Linked DNA regions of Homo sapiens. The protein of the gene in region 2 interacts with the protein of the main gene of each other region in a pairwise test. Each region holds a gene or a part of one and is shown on either strand. Other genes may lie near its edges.

Region 1 (7,491 bases), on a different chromosome or scaffold from region 2:
GCTGTATTTTTGTCACTGTTTTTTGATCATCATTTAAATACTGAGTACTTAGCAGGGCTAGAAAGAATCATTAGAATCTATACACTTTAATGTACTCGTTTTACAGATAAATCTGAAGGCCAGATGGGTAAAGTGATTTGCGTGGACTAGGGTCAGGGTCAGAAAGTTAGGAGTCCAGCAAGGGCTAACTCCCAAATCTCCTGACTCCCATTTCATCTTCTTTCCACTAAACTCTATATGCTGTTTCTCACTTAAGACCTACCGTGTTAACACAAGGATAAATCCTTGGAAGCTTTTTGCAACACTCCGCAAGAACCACCTTTAGTTCCCCCATACCAAGGCTCTGAAGCCTTGGTAGGCAGGATCTGAGAAAAAGCTGAAAGCCTTCTGGAGATGGAAGACTGGAACTGGGTCTTGAACAATGAGCAAAAACAACTAGCATTTACTGAACTCACCATGCACTAGGTATGGTGCTACACAGATGCCTAATGTGGATTACTGAATGAAATCCCTACAACATTGCTGTGAAGTATCAACAGTATTCCACTTTACAGATAAAAATAAAAGAGGCTGAATTGACCAAGATCATATTGTTAGCACACAGAATGAGGAGAGTTCCTGGCACAATGCCCTCCTGCCACAATAGCTGTCAGGCCCACATTCATACACCGTTATGAATGAATAGCAATGAGAAAGGAGGGGCTCTCACACTACAGGTGAGGATTAATAGCACTGAAAGAGTTGTTAGTGTTCATGTGTGGGGACACTGAGGAAACCTAGTTTGATTGTTGAGGGGGTGATAAGGCAAAGTTGCTTAGATGTTATACAGAAATAGTTTGAGATTTGATGCAGTTAAGAAATGAGAACTATTAATAGCATGCATCCTTGACCTGGGGACTGGCAGGTTAAAAAAAACACTTTAACCATGTACTGTATAAGTACTATATAAGGCCAATTAGAGGAGACTGGAGATTAATTTGATGGATATTGCAATAGTGCAAGTGGAATGTGATGTTAATATAGAATGGAGTATCAGCAAATGGGAGGAATCTATTAATTCAAGAAACACTGATTGCTTGGTTCAGAACTGGATACTAAACCCAACAAATACATCTAAGTCAGTACTTAAATACAACTTACTTAAATAGAATTAAGTCCAATAAATATAACAGAGAACGAAACAATCCTCTACCCTCTATACAACTTACAGTCTAGTGAAGGAAACAATCTTGAAAAATTCAACAACTTAAATATTATTACACTGTAAAGAAAAGGGCCAAGTGCAATGGTGTGCGCCTGTAATCCTAGCACTTTGGGAGGCCAAGGCGAGAGGATCGCTTGAGCCTAGGAGTTTGAGACCTGCCTGGGCAACAAAGTGAGACTCCATTTCTACAAAAAATTTAAAAATTAGCTGGGCATGGTGGTGCGTGGCTATAGTCCCAGCTACTCGGGAGCCTAAAGTGGGAGGATCACTTGAGCTGGGAGGTCAAGACTAAAGTGAGCCATAATCACACCACTGCCTCCAAAAAAAGAAAAGATGTTGTAAGAACATACTGAGAGAGAAGAGATCTATTCTAGATAGGGTATTTAATTAAACCCAGACCTAACAGATAGGGAGATAGACATGCATGAAAAAGATAAAGGGCATACAGACTGAAAATTCTAAGGACAAAGACCCGTGGCAGGAAGTAGACCAATGAACAGTAAACAGCAGCATAGAGACCAAGAAGTAGAAATGCAGTTAGAGGTAGACAGGAGCTGGAGCATGTAAGGCTTTGCTGGGCATAGTAGTAAGCACTTTGGATGTCAGTCTAAGTGCAAATGGGAAAGGGTAGGGGTTGAAGGAGCTTGAGCAGAACAGGGACTTGATAGGATAAACATTTTAAAAAGATCACACTAGGATGTGGAGAGTAGGCTAGAGGGGAACAAAAGTGGAAGAAGGGAAACCAAATTAAGCAGCTATTTTATAAATCTAAGCCAAAGAAGAGAGGATTAGACCAGGCTCACATCAGTTAGAAGGGAAAAAAGTAAACATTCAAATTATATTTGTGATGGGGTAATAAAACCTGTTCAATAAAAATAAAACTTGTTCCTTGAAAATTAAGAAAAGTGTGATTTTCAAGAAAGAATGAATAGTAATAAGTGACAAAGACGAAGAGCATCTCAACCCTCCAAGTAGCTGGGACTACAGGCATGCATCACCAGGCCTGGCTAGTTTTTGTATTTTTTTGTAGAGATGGAGTTTTGCCATGTTGCCCAGGCTGGTCTTGAAATCCTGGGCTTCCCACCTCAGCCTCCCAAAGTGTTGGGATTACAGGCATGAGCCACCAAGTCTGGCCTAGTGGTTTTAAGATAAAAGATAATCTAAAGAGACATAAGATTGCATCCAGTTTAGAGAATGTGAGTAGTCCCAGAGTAGGAAAATAGCAAGAGGACACTGCTGAAGGCTTCAACTCAAGTCAATACAAGGTAATAAAGAGAAGAATAAAATGTATATGTCTTCCTACCTGCATATGGGGACTATCCTTTTCCTTTGGAGAGAAAAATCGTCCACCTTCACCACGCTTCCGTGCCATGGCATGACGGTGCCGAGACTCATGCAGGTATTTCTAAAACGAGAAATAAAACCATTTAACTATTAATACTATCCAGAACCAGCACAGTTATCTAGTGCACAAATTCCATTCTCCAAAGTTTAAGACAGCTGGGATCAAAGTCACAAGGGACAATTATGACTTAGAATGACGATGGAAGCTTTGGAGAAAACACCTAGTAAGTAATATAGCTAACCATATATAACTACTGTAAGACTGTGAATGCTTATAGTATGAATTTTTTTTAAAAAAAATAACAGACTACCACCTACACTTCACAATATATACACTTTCCTCTGCTTTAATAACAGGCCAAATTTCGTTTGAGCAAATGAGTGTTCAGTAAAAAGACTTTCCTAGCATTAAAGTTTATTATTATTATTTTCTAGAAACAGGGTTTCACTCTGACACCCTTGCTGTTGGACTGCAGTGGCATGATCATGAATCACTGCAGCCTTGAATTCCTCGGCTCATGTGATCCTCCTGCCTCTGCCTTCCAAGTAGGACTACAGGCATTTGCCACCACACCAGGCTGGACTTTCCTAGCCTTATCTGCATGTTAGGTGTGATCAGGTAACTAAATTCCGGCTAGTGGAAGGTACACAACTTCTTCAAAGTTTCCTTGAAAGAAAGGGTACCTGGCCGGGTATGGTGGCTCACGCCTATAATCCCGGCACTTTGGGAGGCCCAGGCAGGTGGATCACCTGAGGTCAGGAGTTCGAGACCAGCCTGGCCAACATGGTGAAACCCCGTCTCTACTAAAAACACAAAAATAAGCTGGGCGTGGTGGCGCACACCTGTAATCCCAGCTACTCAGGAGGCTGAGGCAGGAGAATCACTTGAACATGGAAGGTGCAGGTTGCAGTGAGCTGAGATTGTGCCACTGCACTCCGGCCTGGATGACAGAGCAAGACTGAGTCTCAGGAAAAAAAAAAAAAAGAAAGGGTACCTTTCTTGTTCCCTTTCTTCCTAGGCTGGAGCCTAAGCAGGAATCTTGGACCATGAACAGCACACTAGCAATATTAAAGCAGTGAAACAGGTCTTGAGAACTGTGAAAATGTGCTACCAGTCCAGGATAATTTATCTCTGGACTACTTTTATGTATGAAAAGGAATAACATCTTATTTAAGCCACTGTTTGTTTTCGTTATTATAACTGCAGCTGCATATTAGTAATAACAAATGCTAACTCTTACAAAAGAGACAACAAGTATCTAACGTCAATTGTTTGGAAGGTACGTGAGAAAACAAGCCATATAAAAGATAATTTCAAAAGTAGAACCCTGCTATTCTCCTTTCCTATATCCTTCCCAATGTTATACATACCCTTCTCTCCTTTGGAATTTTCCCTTCTGCCTCTAGTTTAGCTCGGGCTTGCCTCCTCTTAAGAATACGGTGGTATTGTTTGGCATTCACGTAGAGAGGCTCTTCTTCAAGCATCTCTGCTCCAGGTAGAGGGATTCTTTGGATAGCAGGCACAGAGCCAGCCCCAGGAACCATCTGTGTGAACAGGAAACCAGAGCTTATTGGTGGCATGAAGTATGGACATAGAAACAGTTTCTTGGTTCCTCTTCATCCATTTTTTTTGTAAATGCCACAAAAAGTAATTTTTATAGGGTACTTGGGTAAATGCGGATCCCTGGAGAAATTTATACTAAAGATCTGCACTTTAAACAAACACCCCAGATGACTGTGTCATAGGAGATTCAGGTGCCACTCTGAGAAACTATATAACCATGCCCTAATTCATGTCCACCCATGGCTCTAGATATTTCTGCTGCCATCTAATGGTCAGGAACAGTAGTCATAAGACAAAAAAACAGCACAAAAATAGATAGACCAAGTGCTACTAAATGCCTATATTTATAAAAATAATAGTTAACTTATAATTCAATCCTAATTTTTCTTAAAAAACACCAAAACACTGTACTAAATGTAGGTAAAAACAAGTAACAGAGTCCTGTACCCCACAGCTCTTTCCCAAATACAACCGCTTTGAATAACTGTATTGAATCTTTTATAAAAATTATTTATTTTTCATTCAATTCGTAGAAACGAGGTCTCTCTACATTGCCCAGGCTGAGCTCAAACTCCTGGACTTAAGCCATCCTCCTGGATTAGCCTCCCAAGTAGCTAGGACTACAGGTGCATGCCACTGAGCCAGGGTTGGTTCTGTTTCTTTTCATAGCTTCCTCCACCTCTGTGCAGACTTCTGTTACTCATTCTTAATTTATGCATTTTAACATCCTATTTTGACATATGAGGATTTAGCTTTCAGTTACACCACCCAAATCTTCCTATCTTCCCAATACATTTACATGACACTTTTTTTTTGGTTTCTCTATCAATTACAATCTTTCTAATTTTTAGCTTATTTCTTATTTTGTCCATCATGGGCAATACTACTTTCCACTTCTCAAAGATTAGTATATAATTCCCTTCGTTATTTGAATTCTGAAAAGAATTCCATAAAATCACTATTTATCCATTGCTTTATCTCCAGCATCTAGAATAGTCCCTGGTGAATAGTCCCTGGCACATAGTAGGTGCTCAGAATGAATTATGGTTTGTCATAATGTTATTGTCAAAGTAGATTACCGACAGTGCCTTAAGGATCGATCTCAATCCCAAGAGGTCAACATAATAAATTTTAGGAGGCATCAAGTTGCATGTTCAAGAAAATTTCAAAGACAAAGCTGAAAAATACATTTTCTTACCATGACCATCCCTCCTGAATTGACCACATTGCCTGCCACTGGTAGTGTCACAGTGACAGTCCCTTGCCCACTGCTGGTTGTGTTGGTATTGGCTCCTGTTTGAACAATCTGTGCTCCTGCCAAACTGGCTGCTGGGATAGTGATCATGCCTGAAACAGGGACTGTAACTTTAAGAAAACAAAACATAAAACAAACAAAAAACAGGCACACAGAACAGAAAGAAGGGAACATAGTTAGTCCCTCTTCTATCTGGTATACACTCACCGATCCTGGCAAAACACACTGAAAAACACAAGGGGAGAAAAAGTACTCTCCCACTGTGGTGTGCTATATATAATCTAAGTAATCACAATCTTTGAAATTCTATTAACTGTCTAGGTCCCAGTTTTGAGTAACTCTATCCTTAGCAGTTTTCAAAAGGTGAAAAGGTTTGGAGGCCTCCTCTTCTACAGGTCAGTCTGACTACAGCTATACCTACTGCTCTTGTACATAATGAGCAATCTGCTTCAGGACAGAGATTTTAAAACTTATACTTTGTTTATCTCAAACTGACAATGAGTCAGTTGTAGTATTAAAACTTAAAATTAAACCAAGCATTCCAAGTCCCCAGACTATCAATAGCAGCACTTGAGGATTTGTTCACCATTCTGTTTGAGCTCTTGCCTGGGCTCAATCCAGTTCAGGGCCTCCCTGGAGTAATACAAGAGCACACAGTTAGTGCACTCTCTGGATCCTGTATATTGCAAATTTGCAATCACAAAGTCATGGAATCTAACAAAGATGTCCTTTTTTGATTTAACTATTTGACTAACAGGTGCTTCCAAAAGCCTTCAAGTTCAGTTTCTGCACTCCTCCTCCCAGACCAAACATCTATTATTTATGTTATCTATTCCTAGAACATACTTCCATGAGGGCCCTGCATTGTATTTATTTGTTCACGTCTTTCTTACTAGACTAGAGGCTCTTTGAGGACCCTTCTTAGTAAAAGTGCTGTATACATAATAGTCATTTAAAGTAATGGAATGACCCAGAAAAAAACATAAGCAGCAATAGCACTCTAAAGCCAACTTGATTTTTGATCTATTTCTCTCTTTACCAATGAACTCCCTATTTCTATTCTTCTGTTTAGAAACACTTCTTCCCTAAAAGCTTACACAATCCCTAGATTAGCAACCACTATAGAAACTGCTACACATGGAATCACTGTTGGTCACAGATGGTGACAAGAAACCAACAATCAATGGAGAGCTAGAGGAAATCTTTTTTTTTTTTGTCCAAAAAATATGTAGTGTCAAGTTCACCACTCAAATTCTAAAGATGTCAGTTGTCTAAGGGACAAAAAAGTTGCCCCAAAAAGTCCTAGGGAAGCTTATGGGTACACTTACCTTGCTGGAGAATGGTGCCATCTGCATTAACTGGTTGATAGACGATGGTCTGCCCTTCAGCAGTCTGTGCCACTTGCTGTCCCTGGACAGCAATCTGCTGCTGTGTCTGGAGGAAATAAGTAATGACACAATTCAACAGATCCCAAAGATACTAACAAAGAACGATGTAGTCCTTAAAAAAAAAAATTATTTTTTTGAGACAGAGTCTCACTCTGTCGCCAGGCTGGAGTGCAGTGCAGTGGCGCAATCTCAGCTCACTGCAACCTCCGCCTCCTGGGTTCAAGCGATTCTCTGCCTCAGCCTCCCGAGTAGCTGGGATTACAGGCATGCGCCACCATGCCCACCTAATTTTTGTATTTTGACGGGGCTTCACCATGTTGGCCAGGATGTTCTTGATCTCTTGACCTTGTGATCAGCTTGCCTCGGCCTCTCAAAGTGCTGGGATTACAGGCATGAGCCACCGCGCCCGGCCAAAAATATATTTTTTTATGGTTTTCATCCCCTTTTCTACTATACATGCTATACATGAAATATCTGACTCAGTTATCTGACTCTTCCAAATCAGTTTTGCTCCTGTGTGACAGAGCTAGTGGAATTACCTGAGTCTGGCCAGCAGTGACAGCCGTCTGGGGCTGCTGGATGATGATCTGCTGGGTCTGGCCCTGCTGGCCCTGCACCTGCACAGCCTGTCCACCCTGGATCTGGATCTGTCCAGGTGGGACCAACTGTATCTGCAGAAAAGAACATAAAAAAAGGATTGTACTCTACTGACACTGGTCTCCTTTGGTCCCCGAGA
Region 2 (7,491 bases):
TCAAAAGATTCACACATCACACAGATCATATTCTCTACAAACAAAACAGTTAAGTCAGAAAAGAATAGAATGGGAAAAACACACTAGAGAGAATAAAGCTAAAAGTTTACTCTTTGAAAACATTAATAAAATCAACACATCCCTGGTAAGACTGAACAGGGAAAAAAAAAGATGGCACAATAATTATATTAGGAATGAAGATGACAAAGGATTCTGGCATCAAAAAGACAATATCATGATTAACTTCATGTTAATCAACTTGAAAATTTAGATAAATATATAGAGAGTCCTAGAAAAATATAACTTATCAAAACGGTCTCAAACAGAAACAAAATACTTGAAGGGCATGAGATTACTAGACCCAGGTATCTGTAGTGTCATGTTTTAACAAATATCAACAGAAGAATTAAATACAATCTTTGAAAAAAAAAAAAGAGTTCAAAATACAGGAAACATGTCCCCAAATTCATTTAACAAAGCTACCATAACTGAAAACCTTGTAAGAAGAGTATGAGAACAGAAAATCACACAGTATCTATCAATCATAAATATCTACAAAAAAGTCCTCAACAAAATGAATTCAGCAATTTATAAAAAGAGAAATATAAAATGATCAAGTTGTGCTATCCCAGGAGTACAAGATTGGTTTACAAATAGAAAATCAATTAATGAAATCCATTATAAATAACATTACGTGAGAAATTATACAAATCATTGCAGAAAAGGTGTTTAATTAAATGCAACATTCACTTACAGTTTAAAAAACAAAGCAATGCAAAGAAGGGAATTTACTTAACCTGATGAAGATATCCATTAAAAAAAAAGAAAACCCACAACAAACATTAAACTTAACAGTGAAGCATGGAAAAGATTACTTTTCAGTTTAAGAAGAAGAGAAGAGTGCCTGCTATCACCACTTCTAATCAATACTGTTCCCGAAGGCTTAGCCAATGAGCCACAAAAAACTGCCGTTCTTCATATAAGATGTGAAAGTCTACACAGAAGATACAAAAGAATCTACAGATACATTATGAGGACTAACAAAAGACATTAGGACGGTGGCTGGTTCAAGGATGAATATTAAAAGCGCTACATATTTCCATCCTACCAATAAACTGGAAAAGGTAATAAAAACATGTTACTTCAAGAAGCACTGAAACTATGAAGAATTTAGGGGGAGGAAACGGGCAAGAGACCTCAATAAGCACTTCTATACAAAACACAAATATCAAATAAATATACAAAAAGAGGCTAAAACTCCTAAGTGAGGAAATGCAAACTAAAACCAAAATGAAATAATACTATTTTCTACCTACCAGACCAGCAAAAATCAGGAAGCCTGACACTATCAGGTATTGATAAGGGGGTATGGACATCTGCACAATTATGTATTGAATGGCAGAAGTGATTTGGCATTTTATTATAAAGTTGCAGATGTGCATGACTTAGGAGCCAGAAGTTCAATGTTCGGTATAAAATTTAGAGAACCTCTTGCATTTGTGTCCCCAGAAGACATACACTACAATATTTTATAACTGTTTGTAACAGTAAACAACAAGAAACAATCCTTATGTCCACTGGATTAGAAAAATTGACAAATAAAATTATGGTATATTCAGCAATGAAAATAATTATAGCTATATGCAACAACTTGGATAAACCTCAGGAATATCATTTTAAGGGGAAAAAACCAACTTGCAGAAGAATACGTAATTACTTCATTTACGTTGTAAACATGCAAAACTAAACAATATGCTATTTAGGAATATAAATATATATGGTAAAATATAAAAGCAATTAATAATCAACACAAATGTATGAGCAAAGGTACTTTGATGGCCTAGGAATGATGGGATTAGGGAGAGGCATCTAAGGCACTTTAAATAATGGAATTTTATTTTAACTAGATGGTGGGCACCAGGATGATTTTTATCTTGAAACATTTCTATTCATTTGTGTCTATTCAATATTCAATAATAAACTATGTTTTCTTCAGAAAAAAAATTACTTAGATAATTTAGAAGAACTTTGTACTAAGAAACAAAAAGACTGCATTTTAGGCTAACGAAGGCAATTAACAGTGAAAATTGTGGTGGGACAAATAGTTTTTGGAGCCTAGTAACTAAGCTGAAATAGTGAGGAAAACAAAGGCATATTTATATGCTTCTAGAAGAACACAGACATTAAGGGTACATAGGTTTTTAAGGAAGTGGTATAGAACATGGACCAAAAGGTTTTAAATATTTAATAAATTTGTGACATTTGGTTCTTGAGTTTGCTCTCTCCCCAAATGTTGCCACGCTTTTTAAATTACTGAAGCAAAAGATTAACCACATCTATTTATCTACCAATGTCTTATGTTTAAGCCACATTATAAATGCGTAAGCCAGAGTTAGAATTACCTGTACTCTTTACTACACATATTAATACAATTTAATTTGTTATACATTTTTTATTACCAGCTATATGAAAGTTATATTTTATGAAGATAAATATAGCCAGAATATAAAAACCTTACTAAAGTTAAAACAATCTAACTTTATCTTTAAAATCTTATGTTGTACAGCACCTAACAGTCTCTGAAAAAAACAGGATATAATTTATCAGTGTTGTACCAACTAAAAAAGGAAATAATCAAGTAGATTATTTTAAGTATGTTACTAGAAACTTACTTCTTCCACCTGCCCATCTTCAGCTCCATCTTTCTCTTTGTCTTCCTCCTCATCATCATCATAGTCTTCTTCTTCATCTTCATCTTCTTCAGATGATGTATCCCCAGTTCCATCAACTTGTAAGACCAATGGAGCTTGTGTTTGAGCAGGCTGGGCCTGCGGTTGCTGCTGGCCAGTTGCAGTTATCTGTGCTTGGGCTGGTGTAGGTGCTGCCACTGTCGTAGGTATAACTTGAGTCTTATTTCCTGTAAATAAGATTTGCTGAGGCTGGATGATGACACCTGTCTGTGGTGAAATCCCTCCAGGAAGAGGAGCCAGCACCTAAAGCAAAAGAAAACCACATAACAGTAACTAGTTAAGAGGATCAAGTATGGTACACAGAAATAGAAACAAATGCTTAAGATTCACCAGAATGGCCATATTTCATACACAGTTAAAAACTACCAAAGTACAAAAGCAATTAGTTTAACTAGTGTAGTGACCCATTAAATTTCTATTTTATCAAATTTCTAGAAAATAAGGATTTTCTAAAGATAACTGCTTCATTTATTGAGCACATACTATGTATATGCCAGCTACCAGGACAAAAGTTATACACTGCCTTCACATGAAGAACACTGGACTGAGAATCTGAAAACCTGGGTCTACCTTTTTTTTTTTTTTTTATAGATGGAGTCTCGTTCTGTCACCCAGGCTGGAGTGCAATGGTGTGATCTCGGCTCACTGCAACCCCTGCCTCCTGGGTTCAAGCAATTCTCCCACCTCAGCCTCCTGAGTAGCTGGGACTACAGGTGCGCGCCACCATGCCCGGCTAATTTTGTTATTTTTAGCAGAGACGGGGTTTTGCCATGTTGGTCAGGCTGGTCTCGAACTCACGACCTCATGATCCGCCCGCCTCCCAAAGTGCTGGGATTACAGGCGTGAGCCACAACGCCTGGCCAACCTGGGTCTACTTTTGTCTAAAGTCAGACATAAATACAGCAGACGCAAGTCATTTAACTCCTCTTGGCCTCTGTCGTTTCACTGTCAAACTAGGCTTAATGGTTCTCAATCCTGGCTGCAAATATGAACCACCTGGCAACTTAAAAAGTACTGATACCTTGGCCATACCCCTAATATTCTGACTCAGTGTGAGATAAAAGCTAATTATTTTTCTAAAAACCACCAGATCAGATTTCTGAAGTTCCTTTCCAGGTTCTGCATCTAGGATTCTAAAGTAAGCCACAACTTGAAAAAATATATACTAACAAATATTAACTATATGTATTATAATAAAGGAGGAGGACTAGATGCTTGTTACTTGCCATTAGGTTCAAGGAATGCAAAAATAAGACACAGTATTTCCTTTAAAATGCTTACACGTGGTGTAACAACACAAAAGACAAAAAAATGGTATAATAGACAAAGCACTAACAACTCAAAAACACAGCAGATGTAGTACAAATATGACACAGTGTTATGGGAACACAAGAGAGTGTACCAAATTCAACTTAGGGGACAAAGCATGATCAAATATTACTTATATTATTAGTAAGTAGTTTCTGTTTGTGCTTAAAGGCAGCGGTCCCCAACCCCTGTTAGAAACTGGGCTGCACAGCAGGAGGTGAGTGGTGGATGAGCCAGCATCACCACCTGAACTCTGCTTCCTGTCAGATCAGCAGCAGCATGAGATTCTCATAGGAGCAGGAACCCTACTGTGAACTGCACATGCAAGGATGGAGGTTGTGCACTCCTTATGCCTGATGACCTGAATTAAAAGTTTCACCCCGAAACCATCCCTGCTGCCCAGTACATGGAAAAATTGTCTTCTGCAAAAACCAGTCCCTGGTGTCAAAAAGCTAAGAGACTGCTGCTTTAAGGAGATTAGCCAGGTTTTTCTATTTGTTTGGGGGAAGTGCAGGGAGTTGCCAGACGGCATTCTTAAGAGAAGTGTAACATCAAGTGAAACCCAGAAGTGACAGCAGTACATAATTTTGGAAAGATGTAAATAAACTGGATTAATAGTACTGCTCTGATCTTGTCTCTATCATAATACTATTTTACTGACATTTAAAAAAGAGACAGACACATAAACATATAAAGTACATAAGTTCCTCAAGAAAATAACCATTCCTCTTTCATTTTAGTGCCACAGCACAAGAATATAACACAAGTAGATCCAAGTGTTTATTTTGATGTAAATGCAGCTAAAGAAAATAACTGGGAGCATGGCAAGAAATAAACCTGGAGAGTTCAAAGAAACAAGATCCACAAAAAGATTTTATAAACCATGTTGAGTTGTTTAGGCTCTTCTCAGTAGGCAATGAAAAGCTGTTAAAAGTTTTAGGATTTTTAGAAAGATAGGCCAGGCACAGTGGCTCACGCCCATAATCCCAGCACTTTGGGAGGCAAAAGCGGGCAGATCACCTGAAGTCAGGAGTTCAAGTCCAACCTAGACATGGTGAAACTCTGTCTCTATTAAAAATACAAAAATTAGCTGGGCACAGTGGTGCGTGCCACTAATCCCAGCTACTCAGGAGGCTGAGGCAGGAGAATCACTTGAACCCAGGAGGCGGGAGTTGCAGTGAGCTGAGATTGCGCCATTGCACTCCACCCTAGGTGACAGAGACTCTGTCTCAAAAAAAAAAAAAAAAAAAGATGACTATAAATCAGCCAGGTTAGGAGGGCAAAAGATGAGAGGCAGAGAAACCATTAAGAAGACAATGCAGCATTTTAGTGACAAATCATGGACAGTATGAACTAAGGAAATGAAAAAAGAGGCTGAGAAAAAAACAGTGTCAAACATATTAAGGGACTGCAACCATGGCAAAACTGCAGTTAAAGAAAAAAAAAAGGCCGGGCGCAGTGGCTCACACCTGTAATCCCAGCACTTTGGGAGGCCGAGGCGGGTGGATCACAAGGTAAGGAGATAGAAACCATCCTAGCTAACACGGTGAAACCCCATCTCTACTAAAAATACAAAAGTTAGCCAAGTGTGGTGGTGGGCGCCTGTAGTCCCAGCTACTTGGGAGGCTGAGGCAGGAGAATGGCATGAACCCAGCAAGCAGAGGTTGCAGTGAGCTGAGATCGCGCCACTGCACTCCAGCCTGGGTGAAAGAGCAAGACTCTGTCTCGAAAAAAAAAAAAAAAAGAAAAGAAAAACTATTAACAAGAATTGGTAGGGCTTGATACCTTGGGTATTAGAGGTAAGGAAAAGGGAGGATTCTACACACCCACTTCCAGTAAGCATCATAAAACTAGAGTCATGTCTGTGTCATTCACTCCTAAATCCCCTGACCCTTGTGAATACCCCGAGACTCAGTAACTGCTTATTGAATAAAGGCTGAATGACCAGCTTAGGAAGCTGGAAGGAGAGTGCTGCCACCTTCGAGGGGATGATGAAGGATGGGCAGAGACAACAGTAATTGTTTAATACATGTTTAATACATGCTGAATCTAAGTTAAGCTGTATACAGGAGAAATTTGAAACAACTGGGTCTGTAGCACTGAAAAAGAGTCTTTTGTGCATATAAGGAGAGGGAAACTACCCAGGGAATACATACAGAATAAAACAGAACCCCATACTGATCATAATAGAAGATTATTTTACCTGCTGTATAACAGGAGCTTGTACTCCACCAGGCTGCATTTGTGGTATAACCTGTTGTTGTAGAACCACTGACTGCTGAGGCTGAAAGATATATTGGGCACCATTGGCTGCTCTGACCACCTGAAGAAGCTGGCCTAAAGCAAAAAGCATGCATTCCGAGTTATCATTTTAGCAGTGACCATCTCAAAAGAAATGAATTCATATTTAATTTCATACCACCAAAGGCACAAGAAATTATCAAGAAAACTAACAATTTTATTAAAGGTTGTCATTCATACACAGTATGCATAATCCTCCCCTTCTCTGACTTCTCGCCATGTTCAAATACATTCCTTAAAATGTTTTATTTTTCATATTTACATCCTCATTCAGCTATTTCCAACAAGGTTTTAACAACAGATTATGAGACTTGACTAAAGCTTACATTATCTTTGCTAACCTTAGGAGTGAAGAAAGAGCAGTAAGATCAGACACTTCGGGAGCTGTTCATTTTTAAAGCTTTAAAGGAACAAAAGCTTAATAGCTCATTTAATATCTTGAACCAAACAAAGCACCAAAGAACTTTGCTTCAAAATTGGTAAAAGCAATAAAAGTTCACAGAACCAGTTATCATCATTGTCATACAATTCACACAGAATCAAATTCCCCCAATATGTTCCTTTAGACAACCCAGAATCTTGAATTGATTAAAAAGCAAATTACATCTTATTAAAATATGTAGCAAGACAAGCCCCTAATTTCACAAATTTACAAATTAACAAAAATAACATACACAGAATAGAAAATAAATAATAACTATATAATCAAGATTATAGGGAACACTTAAAATCCATGTAAATAAATTTTTCAAGCACCAATATGCCAAAACACATGAGCTAGACATTGGTCTTTTGTCAATGAAGAGATACTATGTATAATAATAGCATACAATAAATTTGCTCTTAATATGCTCTAGGAATTACTTTGATATCACAAGTTCAAAGAAGTTTAATACTCACTTGGCATGTTAAATGTGTTCAGTAAAAAACTAAGTAAGCATTTTTATATAATCATACTTCAATAATAGGGTTATCATGCACAGATCAAAGGTTCAAGTACAATTTTCATCTTCTTTACTGTATCCTCAACAACGATTACAGTTATATGTGTTACAGCCCTCAAATAAAGTTATTTTAATAACCTAAACCAAATGGTAAAAGAAATATTAGTATTTTCTGTCTTTCAAAGAAG

The links. The genes of interacting proteins can lie anywhere in the genome.
Region 1: the proteins of GTF2A1 (region 2) and NFYA interact in binary tests that used the Homo sapiens proteins (3 or more experiments, as listed by UniProt).

The regions. Positions count from the first base shown.
Region 1 is NC_000006.12:41,089,514-41,097,004, reverse strand, and holds part of NFYA (nuclear transcription factor Y subunit alpha), read right to left. Parts: intron 7,427-7,491; coding exon 7,295-7,426; intron 6,802-7,294; coding exon 6,696-6,801; intron 5,478-6,695; coding exon 5,311-5,477; intron 4,094-5,310; coding exon 3,920-4,093; intron 2,610-3,919; coding exon 2,508-2,609; intron 1-2,507. UniProt on the Homo sapiens protein: Component of the sequence-specific heterotrimeric transcription factor (NF-Y) which specifically recognizes a 5'-CCAAT-3' box motif found in the promoters of its target genes.
Region 2 is NC_000014.9:81,189,847-81,197,337, forward strand, and holds part of GTF2A1 (transcription initiation factor IIA subunit 1), read right to left. Parts: intron 6,396-7,491; coding exon 6,262-6,395; intron 2,994-6,261; coding exon 2,673-2,993; intron 1-2,672. UniProt on the Homo sapiens protein: TFIIA is a component of the transcription machinery of RNA polymerase II and plays an important role in transcriptional activation. TFIIA in a complex with TBP mediates transcriptional activity.